Linked DNA regions of Homo sapiens. The protein of the gene in region 1 purifies or fractionates together with the protein of each later gene. This does not show direct contact. Each region holds a gene or a part of one and is shown in the gene's direction. Other genes may lie near its edges.

What was found.
Region 2: the proteins of CSNK1A1L (region 1) and HMMR purify together in Homo sapiens (affinity purification with mass spectrometry; 2 studies listed by BioGRID and IntAct, with this or other methods). This does not show direct contact.
Region 3: the proteins of CSNK1A1L (region 1) and FAM83B purify together in Homo sapiens (co-immunoprecipitation; 2 studies listed by BioGRID and IntAct, with this or other methods). This does not show direct contact.
Region 4: the proteins of CSNK1A1L (region 1) and FAM83D purify together in Homo sapiens (affinity purification with mass spectrometry; 3 studies listed by BioGRID and IntAct, with this or other methods). This does not show direct contact.

The regions. Positions count from the first base shown.
Region 1 is NC_000013.11:37,102,435-37,109,844, reverse strand, and holds CSNK1A1L (casein kinase I), read left to right. Parts: upstream 1-4,180; 5' UTR 4,181-4,588; coding exon 4,589-5,602; 3' UTR 5,603-6,586; downstream 6,587-7,410. UniProt on the Homo sapiens protein: Casein kinases are operationally defined by their preferential utilization of acidic proteins such as caseins as substrates. It can phosphorylate a large number of proteins. Participates in Wnt signaling.
Region 2 is NC_000005.10:163,456,067-163,463,833, forward strand, and holds the start of HMMR (hyaluronan mediated motility receptor), read left to right. Parts: upstream 1-4,565; 5' UTR 4,566-4,626; coding exon 4,627-4,672; intron 4,673-7,767. Other genes in the region: NUDCD2 (nudC domain-containing protein 2), read right to left, coding at 863-1,014, 1,496-1,544, 3,796-3,984. UniProt on the Homo sapiens protein: Receptor for hyaluronic acid (HA). Involved in cell motility. When hyaluronan binds to HMMR, the phosphorylation of a number of proteins, including PTK2/FAK1 occurs.
Region 3 is NC_000006.12:54,933,672-54,941,173, forward strand, and holds part of FAM83B (protein FAM83B), read left to right. Parts: intron 1-6,034; coding exon 6,035-7,502. UniProt on the Homo sapiens protein: Probable proto-oncogene that functions in the epidermal growth factor receptor/EGFR signaling pathway. Activates both the EGFR itself and downstream RAS/MAPK and PI3K/AKT/TOR signaling cascades.
Region 4 is NC_000020.11:38,943,077-38,950,578, forward strand, and holds part of FAM83D (protein FAM83D), read left to right. Parts: intron 1-4,799; coding exon 4,800-4,924; intron 4,925-7,502.

The DNA.
Region 1 (7,410 bases):
ATAATTAAAACAACCTAAATTAATGAATCATTTATACTTAGTCTCATTCATTTTGAACATCTGACATAATTACAACTTACAGCTTTTTCTTTGTATTAGAGTAGATAGCTGTTAGAACTTAAGCAAAATTCACTGAAAGGAACTGGAAGATGCAATAAGTGTGATGTCATGAACTGTTTTCATGTAATTTTTCTGATCTTTGAATAAAGTAACATAATTAATGAATGTGTTCACATAATGATCTGCCAACAATTTGAATGGTCTTAATAAGGTGACAACCTGCAAGAAAAAGTAAAAGAGGTTACACAACTCCTCACTGCTCTGGAAGGAAGTCCAGAAAGGTGCCAGAATTGCAATAACTTCATGGGAACCAAACAAAATAAGTAATGATTTTTAAGGCTGAAATTGAACCCTACATTCTCAATATAGTAAAATTGGTATTTAAGTGTTTTCTTTTTTTCAGATAAACATATTGCAAGTTTCAAAATGAGTGAACAGAAAGATGCAGAGCCATGGAGAAAATATTCTTTCATGAAGAAAGAAAAATCCAGCACATTACAATGACGCCCTCTGCTGTGATTTTTGATACTACACCAAATAACCTCATTTCCAATAGTGTCTCACTGTCTTTGCAGTGCCAATACTTCCAAAAAGCTTTGAGGAAAAAATGACTTAAATCCTTCTATAAAGTTAGTCATCTCCAGGATCTTTTAAAATTGAAGTGATTGATTCTGGGTAATGTTATTCTGAACATAGTGTTTGAGCCACATAAATGTCAGTAAATCCCTTAGTGACAGCATTATTTATTTAAGAACATATTTTGATTTATTTTGTATTCTATTTAAATAGTTCCAAAAGGAGATTATATTCATGCCAAATGGTTTCTGTAATGACAACTGCCGACCCAATTTGATAGCCAAAAATTTTTTTTTTTAACTAAGAAATTTTTGTGTCTCAAATGACCATTCTACTAAAGTGTCTCCATTTCCTGGGAAAAGATACCAAGAAGCCCAGAAAATTAACCCCAAAATTCATATGAGACTAAAACCAATGCCATTTGAGTATCATTTCTTAATTGCCAAAAGCAGACACGGACTTACAGGGAAGTGAATAAAGCCTCCTTTGCAAGGTCCCTTCTAAGTGTTAGGAGTGGACAGGAGTTGTGAAGTATTTCAGGTGGGGAGGAGAAGTCAGATTGCAATGTGGAAGCATTTCTATGTAAGAATTTCTGGTCAATTGCATCAAGATAGCTTAGGGGATAAAAAAAAAGACTTGACCCTCTAACACTCAGGTAAATTGCAATGATTTCTTTTCCTAAGTTAAATATTTCATGCCTGTTTGTTGTTGTTCTTGTTGTTGTTGTTGTTGTTGTTTTCTTAAAGAGGGCCACAAAAAAAATTGTATAAAGTTCAGGACTGACAAAACCCGAATTGGCTGTTAAACAGTACAATACTACCCAGTACAATCCTGCCCAGAATACGTTATTTTACTTTTACTGGGGTCATCTTATATTAATAGAAATTATTTTAGAGGCAATTTTGAAATCAAGGCTAAATCATAGCTTTAAAATGCATTGGTAAAATACTTTATACAATTAAAGAAAAGAAACAGAACTAATATATTCCCAACAGTGAAGCCACCCAGCGTTCAGGAGCCTCTGGCTGTTGATGTCTATGTAGGGGTTAAAAGTACTGGCTTTGGAGGCAGGCTATCCTGGATTTCCATTCTGAATCCATCATTACCTACCTATGCCACCTTTGGTGAGTCACTCATGCCTGCAAATAGGAGGCATTCAATAACTATTTGTTGAATGAATGAATAAATAAAGAATGCATCAACCCCACACACTGTCCACAAAACTTTATGAAATACAGTAGTTCAATTTACTTCCATTTTAAAAACTATTTGTTGCACATCTTTTATGGAAAAATTTTGGACAAAAGGGTAGGAGGGGATGCAAGAGTTTAAGCAAAGTGTTGTTTGGGTTTAAAAAGAGTATTTATATTTGGTTGAGGAGATTGGAAAAGGTTTCATGGAGCAAACAGCATTTAAGGAAGAGCCCTGAGATTATTAGGATTAGACCTGGGCGATGGGAAAGATAAAGCAGGCTGGAAGCATTTCAGGCTGAGGAAACAACACCATAAGCCAAGACCCAAAGATGAAAAAATGCAGGGAGTATGTGTTCGGGGAAAAATCCGCAGTCCCACCGGCTTGTGGTAAGAGAATTCATGGGAGACTGGATTGGAAGCTATTCAGGGTCATATCATCACTTCAGTTACTGATCCTCCCCATTCTGGAGATGCTCACAACTTCCCTGTAAGTGAAGGTTCACCCAACCACCATTATAAGTTACACTTGACCTTCTTTATAGACAGTGCCTTTATTTAACTGGTACAAAAAAGTATGGGACTTAGTAAACAATAAATAAACTATAATTAAACTATTCTAGTTCCAGAATTGAAAGGGGATTTTTTGATTCAAGCTTTTGTCCATGTATGGGTTATCTGTAACTTTTTTGAATAGTGACTTCTCTCACATAGAGATTATTTGAATTTCAAGGTTCGTGTTGAAGCCATTGACTGGAAGACTGAACGGGAAGGAAGCATAATGGGCAGTGGGTTAACAACATAAATTTTATTCTTGGTTATTAGAAAGGAAATTGTTCTCCAGGCAAATTTCAACAAAGTTGGATGAGTAAATGAAAGAAATGCCATTCTAGTTGGTACGGTATAAAAAGTAACTACCTTGGGTCAGAATTCAGTTTCAAATTGGCCTCTGACACTTGTCTGTAGTGTGGTCTTGGGCAATTCATCTAACCTCTCTATGCCTTGATTTCCACTTGTATAAAATGAGAAGTACAATCATAATAATAAAATATGCCAGCAGTATACTGTATTACTATCCACCTGAGGTAGGAGTATGTATTTTCACCCCACTGTCTTTGGACCTGGCCATGTGATGTGTTTTGCCCAGTGGAATGTAACATTTGCCACTCCTTTTATTATGAGAACAGCATGCTCCTAAGGAGGCTGCTCTTTCAGCCTGCATTCTAGAACAAAGAGGACACAGGAAGCAGAGATGCAGCTGATCTACAGCTTACATAAAACCTGAATGATAAATAAACTTTGTCATTGTAAGCCACTGAGATTTGCGAGTTGTTCCTGCTGCAAAGCCAAGTAATATACTGCGCTACCCACCTCACATATTTGTCTGAAGTGGACTTTAAAAATGTTTTAAAGCACTTTATAATGTTCTATGCCCGTCTATGTCTCAAACCAGCTCCTTCTCTCGCCATAGATTGATGCAGGTCAGAAAAGTTAACAGCACTAACTTATGTGAGACAGTAAAGTGAGAATACCTGCTTTCAAAGCTGCACCTCTCTCTCCTGCCTTTCTGCCATTGGCCCCCAAATTCGTTGCTACTGCCCCGTTAGGATTATACTCAGTTCCTATCCCATCTCCTCATAAAACAAAATAATCGCACGGGTTTTGTTATTTGTGATGTGAACTTTCATAAAAATATTGAAATGGTACCGCTTTTTCTGCTAGTGCTGGCCCCAGTTCTTCTGAGAAAATGCTCAGAACTGCCGGCTTCTGTTTCTTCTCCATATTTTGGTTAAATTTTACTTGAATCCTTCATTTAGTCAGTTTTGCCAGAACGTCTCTGTGGAATCCTATTTAAATTCAAAGCACTCTATGAAAAAATTTCAAAAGGATCGCTTTAAAAAAAAAAAAAAAGACATTTCAATTTAACTAGCAGTAAGTAACTCTTGTTGACTAAACTCATTAAAGAAGCAACCACTGAGATCACACAGAAAAACCTCAAGAGGTGGCACCCCGACTCGCATTAACCCAGGGAGACATGATGGCTAAGGAAGTAGATGGGACAATGACTGGGCCCGAAAACAAGAAAATCTTTGTTATAAAAGCCTCCCATTTCTGCACGATTAAGTTGAAAGAAGGTGAGCTTCGAGTTAAGCCTAGGCAGTTTTGAATTCCAGCTCGCCCACAATCTCTTGCAACCTTAGGCCGCTTACCTGAGACTCAGCCTTTCTTACCCAACAAATCAGGGAAAATAATAGCTACCTTACAAGACTAGCAAGTTTGTCTTAAATGGAGTGAGATGAGTGGAACACCTAACAGAGGTCTCAGACAATAACAGCTTCTCCAAAAATTCTCGATTTGTGGTTGGCTGAGGTGGAGGAACAAAATGGCGGCGCCGGCGGCGTGACCGGGCCCTCTGGCCCACAGCCGTTGGTAGCGGTGGCAGCAGTACTGCTGCCCCAACTCGCTGTGCCCCCTTTCTCAGCCCACGACATCGCCACGACAGCGAGGCAGCGACCGCCACCGAGAAAGAGGTGGTGGCCCAGCCTGGAACCTTGAGAAACCCTCGCAAACTGTGGCCTGGCGGAAATCCTGGTGTGCTGCAGGGATCAGGCTGACTCCACGCCCTGTAACACCGGGAAACGCCTCGGTGGCCATTTCCAGCAGCCCTCATCCTCAGCCTTGCGGGCCGGTGGGCCCCGGAGGCCTCCATCCTCCCCTAGAGGGGTCAGGGCTGAGCCCAGCCTCCATCTTTGCCTCTCAGGATGACAAACAACAGCGGCTCCAAAGCCGAACTCGTTGTGGGAGGGAAATACAAACTGGTGCGGAAGATCGGGTCTGGCTCCTTTGGAGACGTTTATCTGGGCATCACCACCACCAACGGCGAGGACGTAGCAGTGAAGCTGGAATCTCAGAAGGTCAAGCACCCCCAGTTGCTGTATGAGAGCAAACTCTACACGATTCTTCAAGGTGGGGTTGGCATCCCCCACATGCACTGGTATGGTCAGGAAAAAGACAACAATGTGCTAGTCATGGACCTTCTGGGACCCAGCCTCGAAGACCTCTTTAATTTCTGTTCAAGAAGGTTCACCATGAAAACTGTACTTATGTTAGCCGACCAGATGATCAGCAGAATTGAATACGTGCATACAAAGAATTTTCTACACCGAGACATTAAACCAGATAACTTCCTGATGGGTACTGGGCGTCACTGTAATAAGTTGTTCCTTATTGATTTTGGTTTGGCCAAAAAGTACAGAGACAACAGGACCAGGCAACACATACCGTACAGAGAAGATAAACACCTCATTGGCACTGTCCGATATGCCAGCATCAATGCACATCTTGGTATTGAGCAGAGCCGCCGAGATGACATGGAATCCTTAGGCTACGTTTTCATGTATTTTAATAGAACCAGCCTGCCGTGGCAAGGACTAAGGGCTATGACAAAAAAACAAAAATATGAAAAGATTAGTGAGAAGAAGATGTCCACCCCTGTTGAAGTTTTATGTAAGGGGTTTCCTGCAGAATTCGCCATGTACTTGAACTACTGTCGTGGGCTGCGCTTTGAGGAAGTCCCAGATTACATGTATCTGAGGCAGCTATTCCGCATTCTTTTCAGGACCCTGAACCACCAATATGACTACACATTTGATTGGACGATGTTAAAGCAGAAAGCAGCACAGCAGGCAGCCTCTTCCAGTGGGCAGGGTCAGCAGGCCCAAACCCAGACAGGCAAGCAAACTGAAAAAAACAAGAATAATGTGAAAGATAACTAAGCGTGAATGAGGAACAGAAGAAGCAGAGCAGATGATTCGAGCAGCATTTGTTTCTCCCCACATCTAGAAATTGTAGTTCATATGTACACCAGCTAGTGGCTGTGAACAACCATTTAGTTGGTGTAAAAAACTTTATTTCAATATAAACTGACTCTGGGGAGCGTTGGTGATGCTGTATCCCAAAGTGTAGCCTCTGTAATTGTGAATATTAACTGAGGTAGTGAAACGTGGTGTCTGGTTTTCTATTGCATTTATTCAAGTAGAAAAGTTAACTAAATGGTTGACACACACGAATTGGTGGAGACATTGTCCATATGCCAATTTTTTGTTAAAACCTTTTATTTTGAACTAGACTGCTTTGAGATATCATTTCAGAAGGACAGTATTCAGCCACAGCTGCAAAGGTTGTAAATGCTTATGATTGAGCATTTTTAGGGTTTCTCCATCCCTGGGGTTTGCAAATTGTTCACATAAAGAGCATTCTTAAAATGGTTGGCTTCTTGTCTGTAAGCCAGCTGATCTAGTAGTAACCAAAAATTCCAGTTTTGAGAATAGGAAAGATTCCGCCTGCTTACCTGTGAAGACATAAGAAAATCTTAGTAACTACCAGATTATCTTTAGAATTCCACATTAACTATATCATGTTCTCGGTATTTTAAAAACAACAACAACCATATTTGTCACAGAAATTTAGTTAACATCTTACAACTGAACATGTATGTACATGGCTTAGATAAATGTAATCACCGTAAACACCCATATGATCTGGGATTTTGTTCATATTTTGAAATGGGAGCTTTTATGTTTTACAAGTTCACTAAAATCTGAAAACTGTTTCTATAAGGAAATAATACTTTTTTAAACAACAACCAAAAAATGCCTTGCTGATTCACTAGGAAATAAAAATCTCCCCAATTTTTTGATAGTCAACTTCGAGCCATTTGTTACATGATATTCCCTTGCAAGTAAATTTTATTTCATTATATAACTTTTTTCAATGTTTTTATTCTAAAATAATCGTTTTGTATGAAGGGGAAATGTATTCTTTCATTTTTCTTTTTCTAATGACTTGTGGTAAAATATCTAGTACTGCACCTGCCAAAACTTGGTATTGTTACTTCTTCCACTGACTAATAGCTGGGCTGATTTCAAATAAGAATGCAAGCATTGAAGGGTTTGACTACAAAACATTGTTGTTTAAAATACTTGTGAAATGGCTATAAGCAGTTGACTTTTACCCTTGGAGAGCACACTGTGAGGTTCTGTGATCATTGACCCTCCCTAACCCCCGTCTGCTTCTCTGAATTATCTGTGTGTGCGTGCTCTTCCTCTCAATCTTTTTGCACGTTCTTTTCTTTTTCTCTGATGCAAGATAAAGGAAAACTCATTTTCCTTTTAATTCTTTAAATCGTGTAATTTATTCACTTATAGCATGTCAGGATAAATTAAAAGAACATTTGTCTGAAAATGCTGCCAGGAGCCTATTGTGTAAATGTAGGCATTTTGTAAAATAACCTTGAAATTGTAAATTGCCACGTTTGGTCAGATTGTGTCAGGTTTCATTTATTTTTTTCTCTTTTTCATTTGAAAACTACTTCAGCAATAATTAATTCCATGATTACCACATTCTGCCATTAAGGGATATATTAGTACTATAATGCTGAAGAAATCTTAACAAATCCAAATGTTGGGGGTAGGAAGCTTCTTTGTTTCTTTCTATCCACCCTTGTTAGTTAAGGTATTCGTTTCTTAGCTATTAAGCCCTTTCCAGAAATCAGTCTCATAAAGCTATTTTTGAGTATAGTTTA
Region 2 (7,767 bases), on another chromosome or scaffold:
TTAGGGTGTTCAACTTGGACATGTTGAGCTTAATATACATTAGATAGCCAGGTGGAGATGTTGAATAGGCAACCGGGTATGCAGGTCCTAAATTCAGAAAAAAAGTCTAGGCTAGAGATATACATCTGGAAATCATTATCATAAAGACGTACATTATCAAGTGCTGCAATCTAGCAATTCCTCTCCTAGATATTTATCTTAAAGATATCTTAGAACACTTGAGTAGTTTCACAGAGATGAAAGCACAGCTTTCTTTAAAATAGAGAAAAATGAAGAAATCTAAATCATATCAAAGGCAAACAGCCAAATAATGATGACACATCCAAACTACAGAATCCTCTGAAGCAGTTAAAAAGAATGAGTTTTATACCTATGTATTAGTAGGGAAAGAGACCCACAGCATATTATTAAATAAAAAAGCAACAAGAAGAACAATACACACAGTGTGATCCTCCATTTATGCTAAAAAACAAAACAAAACAAGCAATAGCCAACATATGAGATGAAAATGAGATAGATGCATGGAATGGGGAGAATGGTGGTGAAGGGGCCTTTCACTTTTTACACTAGGTAAGTCTATATTGATTCAACTATAGTAAGAGTTTATTCATGCATTACTGATGTACATAAAAGTAAGCTTAAACTCACAAATCACAGCAATACAAATAAATTCCTCTCAAGAAAATCTTCCGAAAAATCAAATCCATACAAGAAAGGCCATTTTTCTAACAATTCACTTTAAAAATTCTTCTAGAAAATGTTTGTAACTTTTCATAATGACATTTGAGTTTTAATTTCAAATATTTATTTGATGATTTTTATATATTTAATTACACATACTCATACACTTCATCTGACTTACTTCTTTTTGGAATCTCTCTAATGTAAGCTTTCTCTGCATTTGGTCTTGCACCCAAGGATCCGCTGCATATTCAGATTCTAGTAGAGAAGTCCAACAATTTGCTGCATCTCTCTTTGTCTTTGTAAGAACAATACGAACCATTTTTCTGTCCTCTAAAAAAAAAACACACACACACACACGCACAAATAAATTAGAGTTCTTCATCAAGTTGTTTTTTTTTTTTTTGAGACAGTATCACTCTCACCCAGGCTGGAGTGCAGCGGCTTGATCTCGGCTCACTGAAACCTCCGCCCCCCGGGTTCAAGTGATTCTCCTGCCTCAGCCTCCCGACTAGCTGGGAATACAGGCATGCGCCACCATGCCCGGCTAACTTTTGTATTTTTAGTATAAACGGGGTTTTGCCATGTTGGCCAGGGTGGTCTCAAGAAGTTCTTCATTAAATTTTATATTTCCAAAAACAACTAACTAATTTTTTCTCCCCCCACTAGGTAACTTTGACATACAACGGTTTTCAACACATTTCTATTGCTTTATCTTTCAAAGCTGCAAAGACAAAAAAGACCTAATACAAAAGAGGAAAAGATATCAAGACAAAATTATTTTAATTTGATGAATTATAGTAATTACCCTTACCCAAAGTCCATGTTCCCTCATCAGCTATTGTAGAATCAAAGAGTTTGCCCTGAAAAATAAACATATAAGGTGCTAAAAATACAGAATTTAATTTTTATAAAGTTTTCATGATTAAGATTTACCTACTTTCCTACCTAATCCACATCTTATACCACCACTTCACCATGACATTTATAGGTGCACAACCCTAAATTTTCTCCCAGCAGGTAAAATGGAAACTAGTTTACACTGCAAGGGATATTTACTATGGCAAAGAACACAGAGCTCTCTAAAGAAAGATCAGGGCTCCTTAATTTTTAGAAGATACAGTAATACTGACCACTGGCCAAATGTGAAATTAATATCTGAAATGCTTTAATTCTACCAATTTAAATTAACCACAAGAAGGGATCTCCTGCTAAAACTAAAAAATGTTGTCTTTTTTTTTTTTTTTTTTTTTTTTTTTGAGACAGAGTTTCGCTCTGTCGCCCAGGCTGCAGTGGCACGATCTGGCTCACTGCAACCTCCACCTCCAGGGTTCAAGCGATTCTCCTGCCTCAACCTCCCAAGTAGCTAGGACTACAGGCGCCCGCCACCACGCCCGGCTAATTTTTGTATTTTTAGTAGAGATGGGGTTTCCCCGTGTTAGCCAGGCTGGTCTCGAACTCCTGACCTTGTGATCCGCCCGCCTAGGCCTTCCAAAGTGCCAGGATTACAGGCATGAGCTACCGCACCCGGCAAAATGTTGTTTTTAAAGTAAACTTTTAAAAACGTTTTAATCTTTTTGTTGGGCAATCGGCATTAAAAAAACTTTACGTATTCCAGATTTGATAGATTAGTTGTGACTAACTGTTCACAAACTCATGTTTTTTAAAAAAATAAACAAAATATAAATTTAAAAGAGACTGCACCAGGCCCAGTAGCTCAGGCCTGTAATCCCAGGACTTTGGAGGCCAACGTGGATTGCTTGACCCCATGGGTTTGAGGCTGCTGTGAGCTACAATCTCACCCCTGCACCCCAGCATGGGAGACAGGGACCCTGTCTCAATAAATATATATTTTTTTTTAAAGAGAGAATGCCTAAACTCAAATCCATTTTAATTTGTTGCCAAATTTAAGTTATAGAAAGTGAAATTAAATGTCACTAGGAAAAGCCCACATTTTAAAATATGTCAAAATTAGTGAGAAAAAAATCCCACTGGTCTATACGTACATCAGAAATCCCAAATTCAGCAGCTACTGCTAAATTCCGAAAGTTACTGGATTTACTAATTTATAATCGTAATCTAAAACCATTGTTGAGGAAACTATGAATTGTACAATTCAGAAAAGTAACTGAGATCCAAGCTGACATAATGTCTTTCACACGAATCTTGAGGCACTCAAAGCACCTCCATATACTGTAATATATATAATAGCTAATAGCTAACATATAGTATGAACTTATTACATACCAGTGAATACTCCAAGCTCTTCATACACGTGAATACCATGTTAAGCTCAAAACAATCCCATGAGAAGGGTACTATAACTACCTTATCTTGTGGATAAGGAAGATATAGAGACACTGAACAATCTCTCGCCCAAGTTTACAAAACTAGGAAACAAGTAGTCTCCCTTCACCATATTACACTGCCATCAAACATCTTGGGCATCTAACCTGAGAACTAAATCTAATTTCAACCTGTTAGTTTAATTATACACTTAACAAAGAAAAAGCGGGTCCAGATCCAAAGAGCATTGGTGAAAAGAAATAAAAGGAGTACTACTTATTTTATGCACACACCTCTTCACCACCTGCTTGACCACTCCACAAACATGCAGGATTTTCAAGCTTTTAGATGAGAAAACTAATCACCTGACATCATCTCTAAATTCTCTGCCCGTTATTCTATCCCTATTTTCTTTGTTGTCCTTTCCTATATTTATCTATTTATGAATTACGCTTCCGTACAGGAGCTTAACCTCTCCACTGCAGGTACGTTATCTGTTGTCTTCCTGCCTGTCTTCAGTGCACGGAAGAAATATTTGTTCCTTTAGCAACCTAGTTAATCTGTTCCCAGCTGAAGCCCGTCAGAGAAGCAGAAGCAGCAGTCTTAGTTTGAAAACTAAACACGAAAATAGGCTCCTCAAATTTCCACAACTCAGCACCTGCCCTGAAGAGGCGGGGGCTCTGACCAGACCCAAACCTGGTCAGTGTTATCCTCTTTCTCTTTCTGCCAGCCACAGGAGCCGTCGGGACACCCAACAGTCGTTCAGGGAAACGGGGCTGGGGGCGTCTGGGAAGAGGAAACTGAACACAAGCCCCGAGCTGCCGCTACCTTGAGGATCTCGCGGCCGCCCACCGACAGCGCCACATGCCGGCTCTGGAGGCCGCACTGGATATCCTGGGCGCGCGTGCCTGGCGGCACCTGAACTTCAATGAACACCTCCTCCAAGGTCTGGTACCACTGGCCCCACGGGGTCCCGCACGGTACCACCCCACTCCGCTCCTCAAACGGGGCCGACATAATCCAGTCCCTCCCGGCCGCGGCCGCACCAGGCGGAGCCGAGCGCACGCGCGGAATCCCACGCTTAGGCTACGCCTCGGCCTCTCCGCTCGGGTCACTGCGCATGCGCAGGAACGCAAGCTAGCGCTTTGGTGTGCGTGTTCGTTTTTCCCTTTGAATGGCCGTTTACGGCACCGGCAGGCCCCGGATGAAAGAACTGAAATCCAGAAAAGTTCACATGCAACGAACAATGGGACAGAATTGGAACCAGTGAAGCCGGAACTCACTACACCGTCCCCTAAGTGACGCCAAAATGCACTTTCTAACGTCTCCGGAGGGAAGTGCGCTTGCGCAAATGCTAGGTTACACTTGAGTAACTCCGGGAATGACTGGGTGGGTGGGGCGGGGAACAGTAACGGTCTCCTATTGGATGGCAGCCTAAACTCGCAGGCCAGCTAATTGGACGCAATCAGAACCCAGCATTCTTTCTTCGTGTTCCTGTGCGGGATTGGTGTGCCCAGGGGTTTGGCTTTCCAATTGGCTAACGCCGGGGTGGGTGGGGAATGTGGGGAGATTTGAATTTGAAACCGGTAGGGAGTGATAATCCGCATTCAGTTGTCGAGGAGTGCCAGTCACCTTCAGTTTCTGGAGCTGGCCGTCAACATGTCCTTTCCTAAGGCGCCCTTGAAACGATTCAATGACCCTTCTGGTGCGTAAGGGGGAAAGAGCTGGGGGACGGGAGACGCCCTAACGCCCTTTGCCTCTTTCAGCTCCCTTCTTGGGAGGCAAGCAGGAGGCGATTTTAGGGTCGGGCTGGGGCTCATTCAGTTGATTGATTTTTCTCAAATATGCTCTAAGCATCTGTTACATGCCAAGCACTAATCAGGATGCTAAGGATACCGCAGTGAAACAGTCTCCGCCCCGTGGGGCTTACATTCAGGCGGGGAATACTGTCAATAAACAGCGGTAATGGAGAAACTACAGCAGGGCGAAGGGAATGGACCCGAGACGTTGGTAGCTACTTGATTTTCAAGTCCGAGAGGGCCTCACTGATAAGAACACTGGAGTATTACTTGTAGTCTGAACTTGTGCATTTCTTTTGTGTATTCCATTTGGGCATAAAAGAAGGAAGATTAGTAAAGGCAGTTTATGGGTGTAAAATTAGAGCAGCAGCACTTATTGAAAACATAAACAATGAAGTTATGGCTGATATTGACCACTTATACCTCAAGCACCGTACTAAGGCTTTACATCGATTATTAGTTATGTTAATTTCCCACCAACTCTAAGGGGTAATCCTATTATTATTTTATTGATAAAAAGACTGAGACTTAAATTTGCTCAGTGCTACATTACCAAAGTGACCGGACTGGAATATGAACCCAGCCCCCATCGTGTGCTCTTAACACCGCAATGCACAGCACAGTAACCAGGAAGCCTTAGCTGTGTTTGGTAGGCACTCATCATTTAAGATGCTGTATGCGGCCGGGCGCGGCGGCTCACGCCTGTAATCCCAGCACTTTGGGAGGCCGAGGCAGGTGGATCACGAGGTCAGGAGATCGAGACCACCGTGAAACCCCGTCTGTACTAAAAATACAAAAAAAATTAGCCAGGCGCGGTGGCGGGCGCCTGTAGTCCCAGCTGACTACAGGCTGAGGCAGGAGAATGGCGTGAACCCGGGAGGCGGAGCTTGCGATGAGCCGAGATCGCGCCACTGCACTCCAGCCTGGGCGACAGAGCAAGACTCTGTCTTACAGAAAAAAAAAAAATGCTGTATGCTGGGACTGTGCTACTAGATCTTGTTTATTCCTTCCAAAAGCCAAGTGAGGAAGGTACTGATATTGACCTCATTTTACAGATGAGAAAACAGAGGTTTTGTATCTTGCACAATCAGTAAGTGGTAGAGCTAAATATTAAAGCTCATGATTTATTCACTATCATACACTATTTCGTGGTTACTCATTACGTCTCTAAGTTTTGTCAGCCAACGTGTGAATGAAAATACAACTACTCACAAAGGAAGGCCAAATGAGCAAGTGAATCAGCACAAACTTATTTTCTTAGTTAAAAGACTCAAGGACCATATGATTTCCCGAGTAATCAAAGGACCTACTCTTAAGTTTTGTCAGCAGTGTGGCTTTAAGGTTTTTTTGGTTTTTTTGTTGTTTGCATTATAGTAGGTTAAACTGGCTTTATCAAAGATATAGTATTTCAGGCTCACAGTTACAGAAATAATACTAATTATTAATTTGATGCTTAATGTGTATGAGGCACTGTGGTGATTTTTCATATTCCAGTACTCCAGCCTGGGTGACAGTGCGAGACTCTGTTTCAAAAAAAAAAAAGCAAAAAAACCCCCAAAATTTATATTTCAACCTAAGATGTATTTTTATATCTCTACACATACATACGAAAGAAAAGTTTCACAAAACAATGCCTAACTTTGCAGCATATGAGTCATGCTTTTTCTATTGTTTTTACTTTTTAAAAAATGCTAATCAAGATCTACTCATGGGGCTGGGCCTGGTGGTTCACACGTGTAATCCTAGCACTTTGGGAGGCCGAGGCAGAGAGATCAGCTGAGGTCAGGAGTTCAAGACCAGCCTGGCCAACATGGTGAAACCCTGTCTCTAGTAAAAATACAAAAAACTAGCTGGGCGTGGTGGTGGGAGCCTGTAATCCCAGCTACTCGGGAGGCTGAGGCAGGAGAATCGCTTGAACCCAGGAGGCAAAGGTTTCAGTGAGCCAAGATGGCGCCACTACACTCCAGCCTAGACAACAGAGCAAGACTCCGTCTCAAAAAAAAAAAAAAAAAAAAAAAAATCATGAGTTCCTGTCTACTGTTTGACAAACATTTAGGGGACAGCAGTAGTTGCCTGGGAATGGTCCAAGCTCCTTGCTCTTCCTATTTATTTGCATGAGACTCTAGACTGAAGTAAATAGCTTTTCAGAGAATAGTATTAATCTATTTGTTCCCAATCAGCTAAAGCTTTAGGCTAGTAGTATTTTAATTACTTTAAGTCCTAAAGGCCCCATCTCAGGTCTGCTATGTGTATTTACTCAGAAATGCCTTCAAATCTGGGACTTTAGTTAAGTGAAATTATGCAGTATAAACTTCTGGAACATACAAATATAGTCTAGTACAATTTGTACTTTGTGTAACATTGGCTTTTTGAATTTCCTAAGCCTCACATTCTTTGTCTATAAATTATCACACAGGATTCTTGTGAGGATTAAATAAAATAACATCTGTGAAATGCTTAGCATAATGCCTGGCATTTAGTAAGTGCTCAAAAAATTCTAGTTGCTCTAGTGTGGTTGCTTTTCTTCCATGTGTTTGAATTGCAGTTGACATCTTTAATAGGTCTGATGTATTGATATTAGCCAGAGATGGATTATCACTATAAATTTTTATTCTAGGCTAAACATTGAGGGATAGACAATTTTAATTACTTTATTTCTAGAAACTGATAGTAGTTATCTTTGTGACTCTCTTCGAGTAGAGTTGACACCAAGTATTTTATTTGCTATATTCAATCCTTAGTAAGAAAGCCATATATTGCCTGTAATATATGATGTTCATCTCAAAACTGTCGTTTGCTCAGTTGCCTGTGTTCCTTTGACCCGGTTGATATAAAGGGCAAGATGATATTGTTCTTCATAGAGAGGCCTTCTTTGTAATATCAAATGGATGCAATTTTTTACATTTAAAAAAAGCAGTTTGTTAATGACATTTTTACATTTATATTCACTTTATTATGACATGTTTTAACTTAAGATCATAAGTAACATTAGATAATATAT
Region 3 (7,502 bases), on another chromosome or scaffold:
ATTCTAGGACCTTTCAAATCTTTTCTGACCTCTCGTTCCTTTGGTGTCTGCCCATGGAACTGCAGGTTTAACATGCTGCTTACCTCTATTTTCAATGATTTCTAAACTCTGGTTCCAATCCTACCAGCACTCAGGTAAGATAGAAGCCAGTCTCTTGGGCTGCACTGAAGACAAGCCAGAATTATGATCCACAGTCTACTCTTTTGTTTCCATCCTGAGGGAGGACCCCCAGTCTGGGGGCTGGGGGAAAAGTTTCTCTCTGTTTGTTTCATGCTGTACCATATGGGGGAGGAATAGGAATGAGCTGGCCAAACATCACAGGTTTTTCAACCTGTATGGCTGGAATATAATGTTCTGGGTGCTCTATCTTTTCAATTGGTCGCTAGCATTTCACAGAGGTCTTCTGTTTCACATATTGTTGTTAACTAGTGTCTCTATGGGGTACGTAGGGCTTGTAACTTTCTAATCTGCCACTTTACTGACCTTGTGTTTGTGTTTTCGGAAGTATTTTTATTTGTAGTTTGTGTCTGTTTCTTCTAGGTGCCATTTTCCAGCTTGTTTTGATCTATGATTGCATCTAAGCTCTTAAGCTTTATAAGCTGTCTTTGAAACTTTGTTTATTCATCTGTTAATCTTTGTTATGTGTTTATATTTAAGAATGAGGGACTGTAAAGCTGATTAGAAACTGAGCGGGAAATGCTTATCAACGTTTGAGTTTACAGCTGAATGATAGACTGGGGACCTGGCAACTTTACAGGAGAATCCCCGACTATCAATATAAATATCACTTATCTGGGGTTTTTCAATGTTTCCAGAGAATAATGTCTTTCTCCAAAAGATTGTCAAAGGAGATGGAATTTGGAATGCAGTCAGAATATGATCCTAACTGAAGATATTCTAGAAGCAGAATGGGAAAGAGAGCTGAGGGTCTGATAAGTCTCATTTTTAGCTCACCTTTATCCCAGTCATGGTTTGTTTAAAGTTTCTGAGTTCAGACTTTCTCTGGATTGGTTTCTGCTGAAGTAAACCTTAGATTCCTGAAAGGGATAGGAAGGAGTGCTTCATGGGAAAGGAAAGAGTAGGGAACCTGGAGGCCCAACTGCTCTATATGAGACTTTCAATCAATCTTCCTGTTTCTCTATTTTCATGACCTTTCTAACCCACCATTTGTAGTACCTTTTGATCCGATGTTGAATTCATAAAGATTCTGCTGGGCCCATCTGGCTTATTCTCATTGCTGCTCACCTCATGCAAACTTCCTATAAGTCAGCCACCACTTCTCCATCAGATTTCTCTGTTCTAAACATTTATTAAATACTTTCACTTGCTACTTCCCTTTTCCCTTTGCTATCTTTTTAGTATTGTGTAGGAAAGAAAAAGAAATAAACCTGCATGATAATCCAGATTTAATGTAAACCTTTTAAGTTTTCCACCAACATAAACATCTTTGCCTTTTAGTCTTGATTTTGAAACTAATAGTTCATTTATATTATCATTTGTTTATTTACAACTAATGTTTTTAAGTGTTTACAATATGCCAAGCACCGTTCTTAGCCCCTGGAAGTGCAGTCCTAAATAAGGTACACAAGATTGCTGAGCTAAATTTTATTTTAGTGGGCACTGGAGACAGACAAAGGGAGAACATACAAGAAACCATCTGATAGTGGTAATGGGGTATTGTATAAATGAAATCAGGGGAATATGATAAAGCATGATCAGATGGATACTTTGAATAGAGTGATCATAAATGTCTTCTAAGAGCATGTCAGCAGGGGAAGAGATATATTGAAGAGGGAACAATAGATAAAAGATCCTGGGGCAGATATCTGGGGGATAGCAGAAAGGCCAGTGTGGTAGGACCACATTAAGCAAGGGAAGAGCTATCCATAGTAAAACTGGAAAGCAGGCAGGGTAGGAATTATCTTAGGCCAGGTAAGGAGCCTGAATTTTCTTTTAAACAAAACAGAAAGTTCTGTGTGGAAGTGTGACATGACCCAATTTGTTTTATGCAAAGATCACTTCTGCTGTTCTGTTGATTGAAAAATGAGCAAATGAGAACACTAAGAGTCAAATTAGCCGAAAATGCTAAGACTAGGGTGATAGTGGGATAGGACTGATTTGTGAGAAGTTTTGCAAGCAGAGTCAACAGGACCTTTTGGTTCTGAAAAAGAGGGCATTCAAAGATGACTGCTTGTTTCCTGTCTTGATCACCTGAAAGATGGCTGAGTCACTCACTTAAGCAATACTAGGGAAGGAATAGGTCGGGGAAGGAGGAGTGCTAGATGACAACTTATGAGTCATACATGTGAGGCTTGCAAGGCCCACTAAAATTTTGGGTAGAGATTGGACACAGATTCCAGAGATGAGGAAGAGGTCAGCACTGGCAATACGGACTTCGGACTTCATAGTTAATGGCATAGAAATCACCTACGATAATAGAGGAATACAGAGATCATTTCCAAGCCCTGAAGCATGTCTGTAGGTTTTCAGATTTACTTACTGAATATATTCAATGAATGTCTTCCTGTTGCCTGAAACTTTATTACAATATTATTTTCTGATTTACTATAGCAGGGAAACTTTTCCAATTGCCACACATTCACCAACACCGTATCTTCTTAGTTTTCTAACCTCAACACTTGGAAGTTGTTTTTATTTAATAACGTATGGATGTTCTTTTGACATGAAGTCTTTTGGTTCTTTCTTTTTACTACTGGCTCAACATTTTCACTCATTATTCCTATTTCTACTTTGGTTGGGCTCTTACTTTTAAGTCTGTACTACAATAGTACTACAAATAGCTACTAGAAAAAAATAGTTCCTCAAACATCTCTTTCTATTATAATTTATCCAAATTTGGAAACAAATTCTACATAATCGAACTTTCTGTTTTGTTTTCAAGATTTTCCCCACTAGTTCATCAGTCTTTTATATGGCTTCTTTGCTCCAGCTATATATAGTATGTTTTCTGTGTTCAACTAGAACATGACCCTTATTGCATTCTTCCCTTTTCCATATTTCTCCCTCCACACAAATTGTCTTCCCACATCTTTTGTGTCTGAACTGGGAATCTAGTCTTTATCAAAATATTGCAGAACTTCACTTTCTTCATGGATTTCCTCATACTTGATAGTTCACTGTTCATTCCATTACTTGATGTTTCTAATATTTTGAATTCATACCTTTAGTCAGATTGAAAATTTCTTTAGTTACTTACTTTTATACCATTTCTTTTAAGTCAGCCCAGTGGCATAATAAATATTCCTTCTGTATCATGCTTCCTATAGGCATACTAGATAAAATTAAGCATATCCAAATAACAAGATTCTTAAGTTACATGCTCCTGTTTGTGATATGTAATATTTTGTTTATTTTAAATGTTTAATCTGCACATTCTTTTAATTATTTTCCTGCATTTTTATTGTCTCCTTTATAGAAATAATAAGATGCTTCAATGTGGAGAGTGTCTCTTTTTTCTTTTGTATTAACCCCCATTGTGTCATATACATTACTTTATGCATAGCATAATAGCAATTCATTTATTTTTCAGTTCAGTTGACTGTATATTAAATCACTAGATTTTCAAAAATCAGATTTAAAATTTGATATGAATTTTAAAGGTAGCTGTTACCTCTAAACTCTAGGAAAGGAATTGGAGCTTCCATAAAGTACTATAAAGTCATACAGACATTAATTTCCTAAAAATTGTATTTTATATTAAAAGATCCTGATTGGCATTTTGACTGGCATGGTTTCTGAAGCCTGCATTTACTAATACTATGTACAGTGAGTACAGTGAATTCTGCCCTTTAATGATTGAGGCAGCTGGCCACAAATCCTGTTTACAGCTCTTGGCATCCTAAATTACACTTATTGAGTAAACCACAGAGATAACAGTCTGAAAATTTACCGACTCTTAAAATACATGCATTAACACAGCTGTATCTTACATTATATCATGTTACAGCTATGAGACATTGTAGCTATTATGCTGTCCGTATCCTTACATTGGACACGAGGAAAGTGAAGCCCAAGCTCATGTGTCTACAATTCAGCAGAAACCAGGCCTCTTGACTTTTTCTCCAACACTGGCTTTACTGCATTCTGCCAAGATGGTATATATAAAATATAATATCAGTTTTTATGCCACGAAGTTTTGACACAGATGTAAAATACACAGCAAATTTTTCTTTATTTTTTTTAACATTCTATTTTATTTATGTCATTAGTGTTTGGGGAACAGTTGGTTTTTGGTTGCATGGATAAGTTCTTTAGTGATGATTTCTGAAATTTTGGTGCACCCATCACCCAAGCAGTGTACAATATACCCAAGGTGTAGTCTGTTACCCCTCACCCCTCTCCTACCCTCCTTCTCTAGTCATTATATCATTCTTCAGACTTTGCATCTTCATATCTTTAACTCTCACTGATAAGTGAGAATATACAATATTTTGTTTTCCATTCCTGAGTTACTTCACTTAGAATAATGGTCTCCAGTTCCATCCAGGTTGTTGCAAATGCCATTATTTTGTTCCTTTTTATGGTTGAGTAGTATTCCATGGTATATACATACCACATTTCTTTATCCACTTGTTGGTTGATGAGCATTTAGGCTGGTTTCATATTTTTGCTATTGCAAATTGTGCTGCTATAAATAGGCATGTGCAAGTGTTTTTCATATAATAACTTCTTTTCCTCTGGGTAGATACCCAATAGTGGGATTGCTGGATTGAATGGCAGTTCTACTTTTAGTTCTTCAAGGAATCTTCCTACTGTTTTCCATAGTGGTTTTACTAGTATACATTTCCACCAGGAGTGTAAAAATGTTCTCTTTTCACCACATGCATGCCAATGTCTATTAGTTTTTGATTTTTTAATTATGGCCATACTTGCTGGAGTAAAGTGGTACCTCATTGTGGGCTTAATTTGCATTTCCCAGATAATTAGTGATGTTGAGCATTTTCTTTTGTATTTTTGTTGGTCATTTGTATATTTTCTATTGAGAATTGTCTATTCATGTCTTTTGCCCATTTTGATGGGATTATTTGTTTTTTTCTTGCTGATTTGAGTTCCTTGTGGATTCTGGATATTATTCCTTTGTTGGATGCATAGTTTGCAAATAGTTTCTCCCACTCTGTGGGCTGTCTGTTTACTCTGCTGATTATTTTGCTGTGTAGAAGCTTTTTTGTTTAACTAGGTTCCATCTATTTTTCTCTGTTTTTGTTGCATTTGTTTTGGGGTTCTTGGTCATGAATTCTTTGCATAAGCCAATGTCTAGAAGAGTTTTTATTATGTTATCATCTAGAATTGTTATGGTTTCAGGTCTTAGATTTAAGTTTTTGATCCATCTTGAGTCGATTTTTGCTTAAGGTGAGAAGTGAGGATCCAGTTTCATTCTTCTACATGTGGCTTGCCAATTATTCCAGTATCATTTGTTGAATAGGGTGTCCTTTCCCCACTTTATATTTTTGTTTGCTTTGTTGAAGATCAGTTGGCTGTAGGTATTTGGCTTTATTTCTGGGTTCTCTATTCTGTTCCATTGGTGTATGTGCCTATTCTTATACCAGTAGGATGCTGTTTTGGTAACCGTAGCCTTGTAGTATAATTTGAAGTCAGGTAATTTAATGCCTCTAGATTTGTTCTTTTTGCTTGGTTTTGCTTTGGCTATGCAGGCTCTTTTTTGGTTCCATATAAATTTTGGGATTGTTTCTTCTTATTATGTGAAAAATGATGATGGTATTTTGATGGGAATTGCATTGAATCTGCAGATTGCTTTTGAAAATGCACAGCAAGTTTTTCTTTGGACTTCTGGAAAGTAGTGGATTCAAAGCCAAAATTTGAGTTGCGTTGTTATTTAAAATAGGAACATGAGGATGGGAAAACATGTAGTGCATGTAATGACGGAAAATATTCTAAATAATGATAGCCAAAGAAAAGTACAAAAACATAGTCATTAAGTGATACTTTTTTTAGTAGAACTATATGTTATTATCAATCTTTTAAATGATTAAAATTTTTCCATTTTTTTCCCCAGTTATATGTGGTCATTTGAGAAAGCTCACCTCAGCATGGTTCAGATAATTACAGGACAACTTGTTGAGTCCTTTGATGAAGAATTTAGAACTCTCTATGCCAGATCCTGTGTCCCTAGTTCATTTGCTCAGGAAGAATCAGCAAGGGTGAAGCATGGAAAAGCCCTCTGGGAAAATGGCACTTACCAGCATTCGGTGTCTTCATTAGCATCTGTTTCCAGCCAGAGAAACCTTTTTGGTAGACAAGACAAGATTCATAAACTAGATTCCAGTTACTTCAAAAACAGAGGGATATATACTTTAAATGAACATGACAAATATAACATAAGAAGTCACGGATACAAACCTCATTTTGTTCCTAACTTTAATGGTCCAAACGCAATACGTCAGTTTCAACCCAATCAGATAAATGAAAATTGGAAAAGGCATAGTTATGCTGGGGAACAGCCAGAAACAGTGCCATACCTCCTGCTTAATAGGGCTCTGAATAGAACCAATAATCCACCTGGTAATTGGAAAAAGCCATCTGATAGTCTCAGTGTGGCGTCCTCATCACGGGAAGGCTATGTAAGCCACCACAACACACCTGCCCAGAGTTTTGCCAATCGGCTTGCGCAGAGAAAAACAACAAATCTTGCAGACAGGAATTCAAATGTTCGGAGGTCTTTTAATGGGACAGATAACCATATCCGCTTTTTGCAACAACGAATGCCAACCCTTGAACATACCACAAAGTCATTCCTACGTAACTGGAGAATTGAATCCTACTTAAATGATCATTCAGAAGCTACACCGGACTCAAATGGATCAGCTTTAGGTGACCGATTTGAGGGCTATGATAATCCTGAGAATTTGAAGGCCAATGCCCTTTATACTCATTCTCGGCTTCGTTCCTCTTTAGTATTTAAACCCACTTTACCTGAGCAAAAGGAAGTTAACAGTTGTACAACTGGCTCCTCAAATTCAACTATCATTGGTTCTCAGGGAAGTGAGACACCTAAAGAGGTCCCAGACACCCCTACGAATGTACAGCATTTGACAGACAAACCCTTGCCAGAATCAATCCCCAAGCTCCCATTGCAGTCAGAGGCACCAAAAATGCACACCTTGCAGGTTCCTGAAAACCACTCAGTAGCCTTAAACCAAACTACAAATGGCCATACTGAATCAAATAACTATATATATAAAACCTTGGGTGTAAATAAGCAGACAGAAAATCTAAAGAATCAACAGACTGAGAATCTACTTAAAAGGCGAAGTTTCCCGTTATTTGACAACTCAAAAGCCAACTTAGATCCTGGAAATAGTAAGCATTATGTATATAGTACACTTACCAGGAATCGAGTTAGACAACCAGAAAAGCCCAAAGAAGATTTGCTGAAAAGTTCTAAAAGCATGCACAATGTGACTCATAACTTGGAGGAGGATGAGGAGGAAGTTACCAAGAGAAACTCTCCAAGTGGCACTACT
Region 4 (7,502 bases), on another chromosome or scaffold:
TACAGTGGCCCAATCTAGGCTCACTGCAACATCCCTCTCCCAGGTTCAAGAGATTATCCTGCCTCAGCCTCCCAGTTAGCTGGGATTACAGGTGCGTACCACCACACCTGGCTAATTTTTGTATTTTTAGTACAGATGGGGTTTTGCCATGTTGTCCAGGCTGGTCTTGAACTCCTACCTCAGATGATCTGCCTGCCTCGGCCTCCCAAAGTGCTGGGATTACAGGCATGAGGCCCCATGCCCAGCCTGCTCTGTGCTTTTAACAAATGTTATGTAACTGAATCCTCAAAGCAGCCCCTATCAGGTAAGTGGCACCTGTGTTTTAGACCAGGAAATAGTGACACAGAGAATCCAAGTGTCCACCACTTCAAAGTAGTGGGCCTAGGGTCTGCCTCCTTGTATGTCTGCCTCCAACCCCAGTGTCTGTAATCACTATTACATGCTGCTGCTGTTCATTTCTCATTATTGTAAAATTAGATTTTATGTCTATTTCTCTGATTCTGAAAATGACCTAAGTGTTTCAGTGGAAGCCTATACAACATAGCTAGCTTGGTCACTTTCATGGAAAGAAGAAAGAAAAATTGTCATATTTATTACAGAATTTGTTTTTTTGTTGTTGTTGTGTTTTTTTGAGATGGAATTTTGCTCTTGTTGCCCAGGCTGGAGTGCAGTGGCACGATCTCAGCTCACTGCAACTTCTGCCTCCCGGGTTCAAGCGATTCTTCTGCCTCAGCCTCCTGAGTAGCTGGGATTACAGGTGCCCACCACCACACCCGACTAATTTTTTGTATTTTTAATAGAGACAGGGTTTCACCATGTTGGTCAGGCTGGTCTCAAACTCCTGACCTCAACTGATCCACCCGCCTCGGCCTCCCAAATTGCTGGGATTACAGGCATAAGCCACCATATCCGGCCCAGAATTTGTTTTTTAAAAATTAAGCAACCCATGGCTTCTCAGCCTTTTGGCTAAGATCAAGTGTAAAAATTAAGCATCTTAACCTGTGAGCTTCAGAACTTTATTTGTTCATCACCTGTATGAGTATCTATTATGCACTGGGTACTAGATATAAAGCAGTCAGCAAAACGAATTTAGTCTTTGGTACTATAAGTTACTGCCTAAGAGACTCTAACTTACCACCTTATTATTACCAAGCAATTTGGTTTACAGAATTCAGATTCTCCCACAGAGTTCTTGTTGGTTGCCTCATGATAAAGACAGGATTGGGGTTTCTAGACCAATTGAGATGAGACAGCCATGTAACCCAACAGGTGGTTAGAAAATGAGTCCAGGTGGACCCAAGGAAGATACACTTTGGCATGGAAAAGAGCATTATCAGCTAGCCAGGTAAAGAAATGGAAGGTATCAGTGTTTAATTTCAAGGTACTCTTTCTATAATTAAGGCTATGCATTAGCAGAGAAATCACAGAATTGTTCTGGCCACAACTTTGGTCAAGTGATTTTCTCTATTTATCTACTAGACAGAAATCTATGAGCAGGCACCGGTTCAGTTGCCTACTGTTGGTTGTTGCCTTCATAGGTGTCCAGATCCTCTGCAGGGGGGTTTAAGAAGGCCTATTTCTGGCCGGGCGCGGTGGCTTACGCCTGTAATCCCAGCACTTTGGGAGGCCGAGGCGGGTGGATCACGAGGTCAGGAGATCGAGACCACCCTGGCTAACACGGTGAAACCGCGTCTCTACTAAAAATATAAAAAATTAGCCAGGCCTGGTGGCACACGCCTGTAGTCCCAGCTACTTGGGAGGCTGAGGAAGGAGAATCGCTTGAACCCGGGAGGCAGAGGTTGCAGTGAGCCGAGATCGCGCCACTGCACTCCAGCCTGGGCAACAGAGAGAGACTCTGTCTCAAAAAAAAAAAAAAAGGCCTATTTCTCTGGCCTCCCCAGTTTTTGTAGTTTTACCTCCTTCCTGGGGAAGCACTGTCTTCCCTGGTTGCTTGTGTCTCCTGTTCCTCTCTGTGCTAGTGAATTTGTGCCCCTTGCTGTATGGGGGCTGATGTCCCCATGCTCTGCCTCTGTAGCTGGTTCAGAATGTTGGGTTGTGCTGTCTGTAGGAACTTGGTCACACATTGATGTGCAGGCGCTCACAAGTGCTTTGGCCACGATCACAGAGGCATATGCAACATTCAGATGTGTGTCAAAGGGAAAGATACAGAAAACCACACCTAATCTGCCCATAATGGTATTCTTATGCTTATTATATGTTGATCCTTTAAGACTTGGCTCAGGGGTCATCACCTCCTCCAGGAAGCTCTCCTCCCACCAAGTCCAGGTGTACCTCTATGACATTCCCTAGTCGTTTTTCTTTTTTTAATTTTTATTTTGAAATAATTTAAGATTTATAAAGAAGTTACAAAAATAATATAAGAAATTCCTGAATACTCTTCACCCAAGTTCTCCACATGTTAACATCTTACAAACCTCAGTACAAATAACAAAATCAGGAAATAAACTTGATATCAATACTATCTAATTTACAGACTTATACATTTCCCGGTCGTTCCACTAATGCCCTTTTTTATGGTCCAGGATCCAATCCAGTCCAGGATCACACCTTACATTTAGTTGTCAAGTCTCCTTCATGTGATTTAATCTGGAACAGTTTCTCCATCTTTCTTTGTCTTTTAGGGTCTTGACCTGCCCCCACCCCCCCCCCACCACCCCACCCCCCGTTTTTTTTTTTAAGAGATAAGGTCTCGCTATGTTGCCTAGGCTGGTCTTGAACTCCTGGACTCAATTGATCCTCTTGCATCAACCAGCCTCCCAAGTAGCTGGAACGACAGACATTTGGCACTGCGCCCGGCTGGATCTTGACACCTTTAAAGAATACTAGCTAGCTGGGTGCAGTGGCTCACGCCTGTAATCCCAGCACTTTGGGAGGTTGAGGTGGGCAGATCACCTGAGGTCAGGAGTTTGAGACCAGCTTGGCCAATATGGCGAAACCCCGTCTCTACTAAAAATACAAAACAATTAACCAGGCATGATGGCAGGTGCCTGTAGTCTTAGCTACTCGGGAGGCTGAGGCAGGAGAATTGCTTGAACCTGGGAGATGGAGGTTGCAGTGAGCCGAGATTGTGCTACTGCACTCCAGAGTGAGACTCCACCTCAAAAAAAAAAAAAAAAAAAAAAACAATTTTTTGTAGAATTTGGGTTTGTCTGATGTTTTATCAAAGTTAAATTCAGATTACGCATTTGGTAAGAAGACCACAGAAGTAGCATTATGTCTTGCCATAGTTTTGTGTTTTATTTTTAGCTTATTTTGAATATTGATAGATTAACAGAAGTTGCAAAGATTGTACAGAAAAGTTTCATGTACCCTTCACCCAGTTTCCCCAAATGTTACATCTTATGTAACTTATGGTACAATGTCAAAACCTGGAAATTGACATTGTATACAGCTTTGTGCCATGTTATCGTCATGCATGCATATCCAGACAGAAGTTTCCATCACCACAAAGATCTCCCTCCTCCTGCTCCTTTATATAGTCACATCACTCCCCTCACTTTAACCCCTAGCAACCACTAATTTGTTCTCTATTTCTATAATTTTGTCGTTTACAGTCTATTTTGTAAATGGAATTATACAGTATGTGACCTTTCAAGATTTGCTTTTTTTCTCTCATCACAGTGCTTTTGAAATCCATCCAAGATGTGCACGTATCAACAGTTTGTTCCTTTTCATTGCTGAGTATTGTATGGTATCTTATACCATTCAGCCACTGAAGGACATTTGGATATTTCCAGTTTTTGTCTGTTATGAATAAAGTTGCTGTGAACATGTGTAGAGGTTTTGTGTGGATATAGGTTTTCATTTCTCTGGATGCTGTTATGTGTTACTGTAGTTTCTAAATCAATTAGTTTTCTCTCTCTTATTCTAGTCCTTGAAGGTAAGGAGCATGCCTTACATCTCTGTTGTCTCACGGCTTGGCACATAGTAGGGGCTCTCTATGTTTATGGAATCAATGAGTCAAACAAAAATCTTACACGTTTAATTTAAATGTGTAAGATTTCTAACGATATAGAGCCACTGGTCTGCTCCAGAGAATGCAGATTGTTGTAGTATTTTGTATGCCATTGTTTATACATTTATGTGTGTCATTTTACAGGAATAATTATGCATACATGTGCAGTATATTGCCCCAGCATACCACTACCAGTGTACGTTTTTGGTAATTATGTATTTGTAGGAGATGTGACATTGCTTGTTAAGCCACATGTGATATGAGTGTTTCTGCCTCAGCAGGCCTGTACTAGAGAAGGCCTGTCCTGTGTTCCTATTCTCCATACCCATTATGGTGTTGAGGGTGAGTGAGGATGGACTGTTACTCTAATGTGATGCCATTAAACAAACAAGTTGGAGGAAGATCAGCTTACCTTCTTTCAGACTTTGCTAAAATGTTCTTTATTACTAGCATGTTTTCTTTGATGATTTTATCCCACACATTTTGCTTCAGAATCATTTCTTGGATTCTGTTGTTTAGTATCCCAAAAAGGTTGAGTGTTCTTTTAGAACACATACACGCATGAACTAAGGGTCTCAAAAGTAAATATAAGAAAAGAACAGATGAGAAGATGGACCAAATGTAGAAGTAACATCACTTGAGGCTTGAGAACTGTCTGGCTAGTGTACCATGTATACTGTCACTAAATGGTGACCCTAAGCCACGCATATGCCAATAATTATATCTGGGAATTGTAAACTAAGGCTTTTTGTCCTAACCATTTGCTCAGCAGATGAGTATTGCTGAATTGTTCATTTATATTTCTCCCACTCCCTGCCAACAGTTAATGACAGTTCGGACTATCACAGGAAATATCTACTATGCAAGGTCAGGAACTAAGATTATTGGGAAGGTTCACGAAAAGTTCACGTTGATTGATGGCATCCGCGTGGCAACAGGCTCCTACAGGTAAGTCTCTAACCCGTCCAAGGCTTATTAATCTAAACTCTTCAGAAGAAGCATGTCATGTAAAGGTAAAAGCCTTTTCCTCTCAATGGGAGCCTGTATGGCCATGCATTCTGATATGCGTGCATCTGTGTATAGCAGCTGGTTATCAAAGCCTCCTGTTAGAGGCAGTTTGGGTGGGGGTCACTTCCCCTGTCCTGTAGTCCATAGATTAAAATGCAGAAGTTGAACTTGTATTGAGACAACACAGTCAGCAAGTCCTAGATTTCAAGCCTTGGCCCAGGTCTGCAGGGGACGAACTGGGGGTTAACAGCAACACACAGTCTGGAATCCTGGTTCCTTAGGGATCTGGACCCAGCTTGCCCTGCTCACTTGAAGGTAGGGGCAGTTGCAGGCATCTCCATTAGTGTTGAAGGCAGAGCCAGAGCTGTCAGCTTTAGACTCAAATCCTCCACGTTGCTTCAAGCCTTGTAATTTAGAGCTTTAGTCTAGAAAATACTGATTATGTTTCTGACCCACCTTTGAAGTGTCACATTGGCAATGGCATCTTAAGGTAGAGAGCAGGAAGGTTGAAGAGAGGGTGGGGATAATGAGCGGTTTACATGAATCTCTAGAATTTGTGCCATTTGTACATATGTGGCTCCAATGGTTGTATGTTCTGCCGCCTCTGCGGTAGATTGTCTGATGGTTTGCATGAGGTGTGTCTGTAGAATTTTAAAAAGAAAACCCCATTTTTGAAGAAACACACAACCCTGAGTGATAATTACGTGTCAGCCCTGGGTAAAGGTAGAAATGTGAAGGCTTGTGGAAAATGAGGCAGTAAGATCAAGAAAATCTTGACACCTTTCTTTTTCAACAGTACCCTCATTGCTCAGAACAAAATTTGAACTTTCTTCACCAAAGAGGCTGTGGGAAAAAACAAATTGAACTCTTTTTCTTGGAATTTCCTTTTGTAAGAAGTTTATTAAAAAAATTTGTTTTTAACCTAAGTAGGATTTATCTATATTAACCAAACTTAGCTACAAATGGACTTTTGCTGTTCTAAAATATAAAAACTACCCTCTCCAAATGAAATTGATGACGATGATAGCTTCCATTTGTTGAGGAGGTTTTATAATCTTGGTGTTGGATAGGTGCTTTATTTACATTATCTCATTGAAGGCTTTCTTTTTTTTTTTTTTCGTGATGGAGTCTTGCTCTGTTGCTCAGGCTGGAGTGCAGTGGCGCCATCTTAGCTCATTTCAACTTCTGCCTCTCAGATTCAAGCGATTCCTGTGCCTCAGCCTCCCGAGTAGCTGGGACTACAGGCATGCCACCATGACTGGCTAATTTTTGTATTTTTAGTAGAGATGGTGTTTCGCCACGTTGGCCAGGATGGTCTCAGACTCCTGACCTCAGGTGATCCGCTGGCCTCGGCCTACCAAAGTGCTGGGGTTACAGGTGTGAGCCACTGCGCCCGGCCCAGCCTCATTGAAGGCTTTCAAAAGAATCTTCCTTCTCAGGCTTTGAAGGCAGTTTTCAGGGGGACTTTGCATTAGCCATATCTTGGTTACAGGAGACAGAGTTGACTGTGTTCTATGATCTCTGTTTGAAACCTACTTCTGGTACAAATACCACCATTAGTGGGGTGATGGCAAGTGTCAGCTAACTCTCAAACGTACTGACTCGAAGAACCCGGAAGGAAGCATAGAAAGGTACAGTTGGTTTTCAGTTCATCTTGACGTAGGAGCCACACGCTGATCAGAACACTATATCCTGGTTCTGATGTTTTCGAGTTGACTTTTGTTCTTAGGCAGGCTCTCCCTTTGAAGTCAACGATCCTGGCTTTGTTTATTTTTTGTTTTTGAGACAAAGAGTCTTGCCCAGGCCGGAATGCAGTGGACGATCTCGGCTCACTGCCAAGTTCCGCCTCCTGCGTTTACGTCATTCTCCTGCCTCAGCCTCCCGAGTAGCTGGGACTACAGGCGCCCGCCACCACGCCCAGCTAACTTTTTTTTGTATTTTTAGTAGAGATGGGGTTTCACTATGTTAGCCGGGATGGTCTCAATCTCCTGACCTTGTGATCCGGCCACCTTGGCCTCCCAAAGTGCTGGGATGATAGGCATGAGCCACCGTGCCCAGCCAGATCCTGGCTTTCTTATATGGCCTTTAGTAGCTGTCTCCCAAAGGGTGAAACTCTTTCACTCAGAATTACTATCAATCCCTTCTGTCAGAATCCATTTGATAAAGAAAAAAGAAATCTCTGAAAACTTACTTGGCTCTGGTGGGATCACATGCCCACCCTGAATGAATCCCTGCATCCAAGGGAATAGGATACTCTGGCCAGTGTGGACCACATGCCTGCCCCTATTGTGGTTGGAGAGAGTATGATAATGAAAGCTTTCTGGGGTACAGGTGGGTGTGAGTTCTGCTAGCAGAGGAGGGAGGCGGGGAAGGGACACCGTACAGGCAAGGGCACATGGCCACTAATCAGCTCTAAAATGTTTTGAGCCATGGTGTTTTGTGAAAATGGCAGCACAGCCCCATGACTGTGGGTCCTCCACTGTTAGTGAGGAAGACTACTTCAGCAGCCACAAGGACA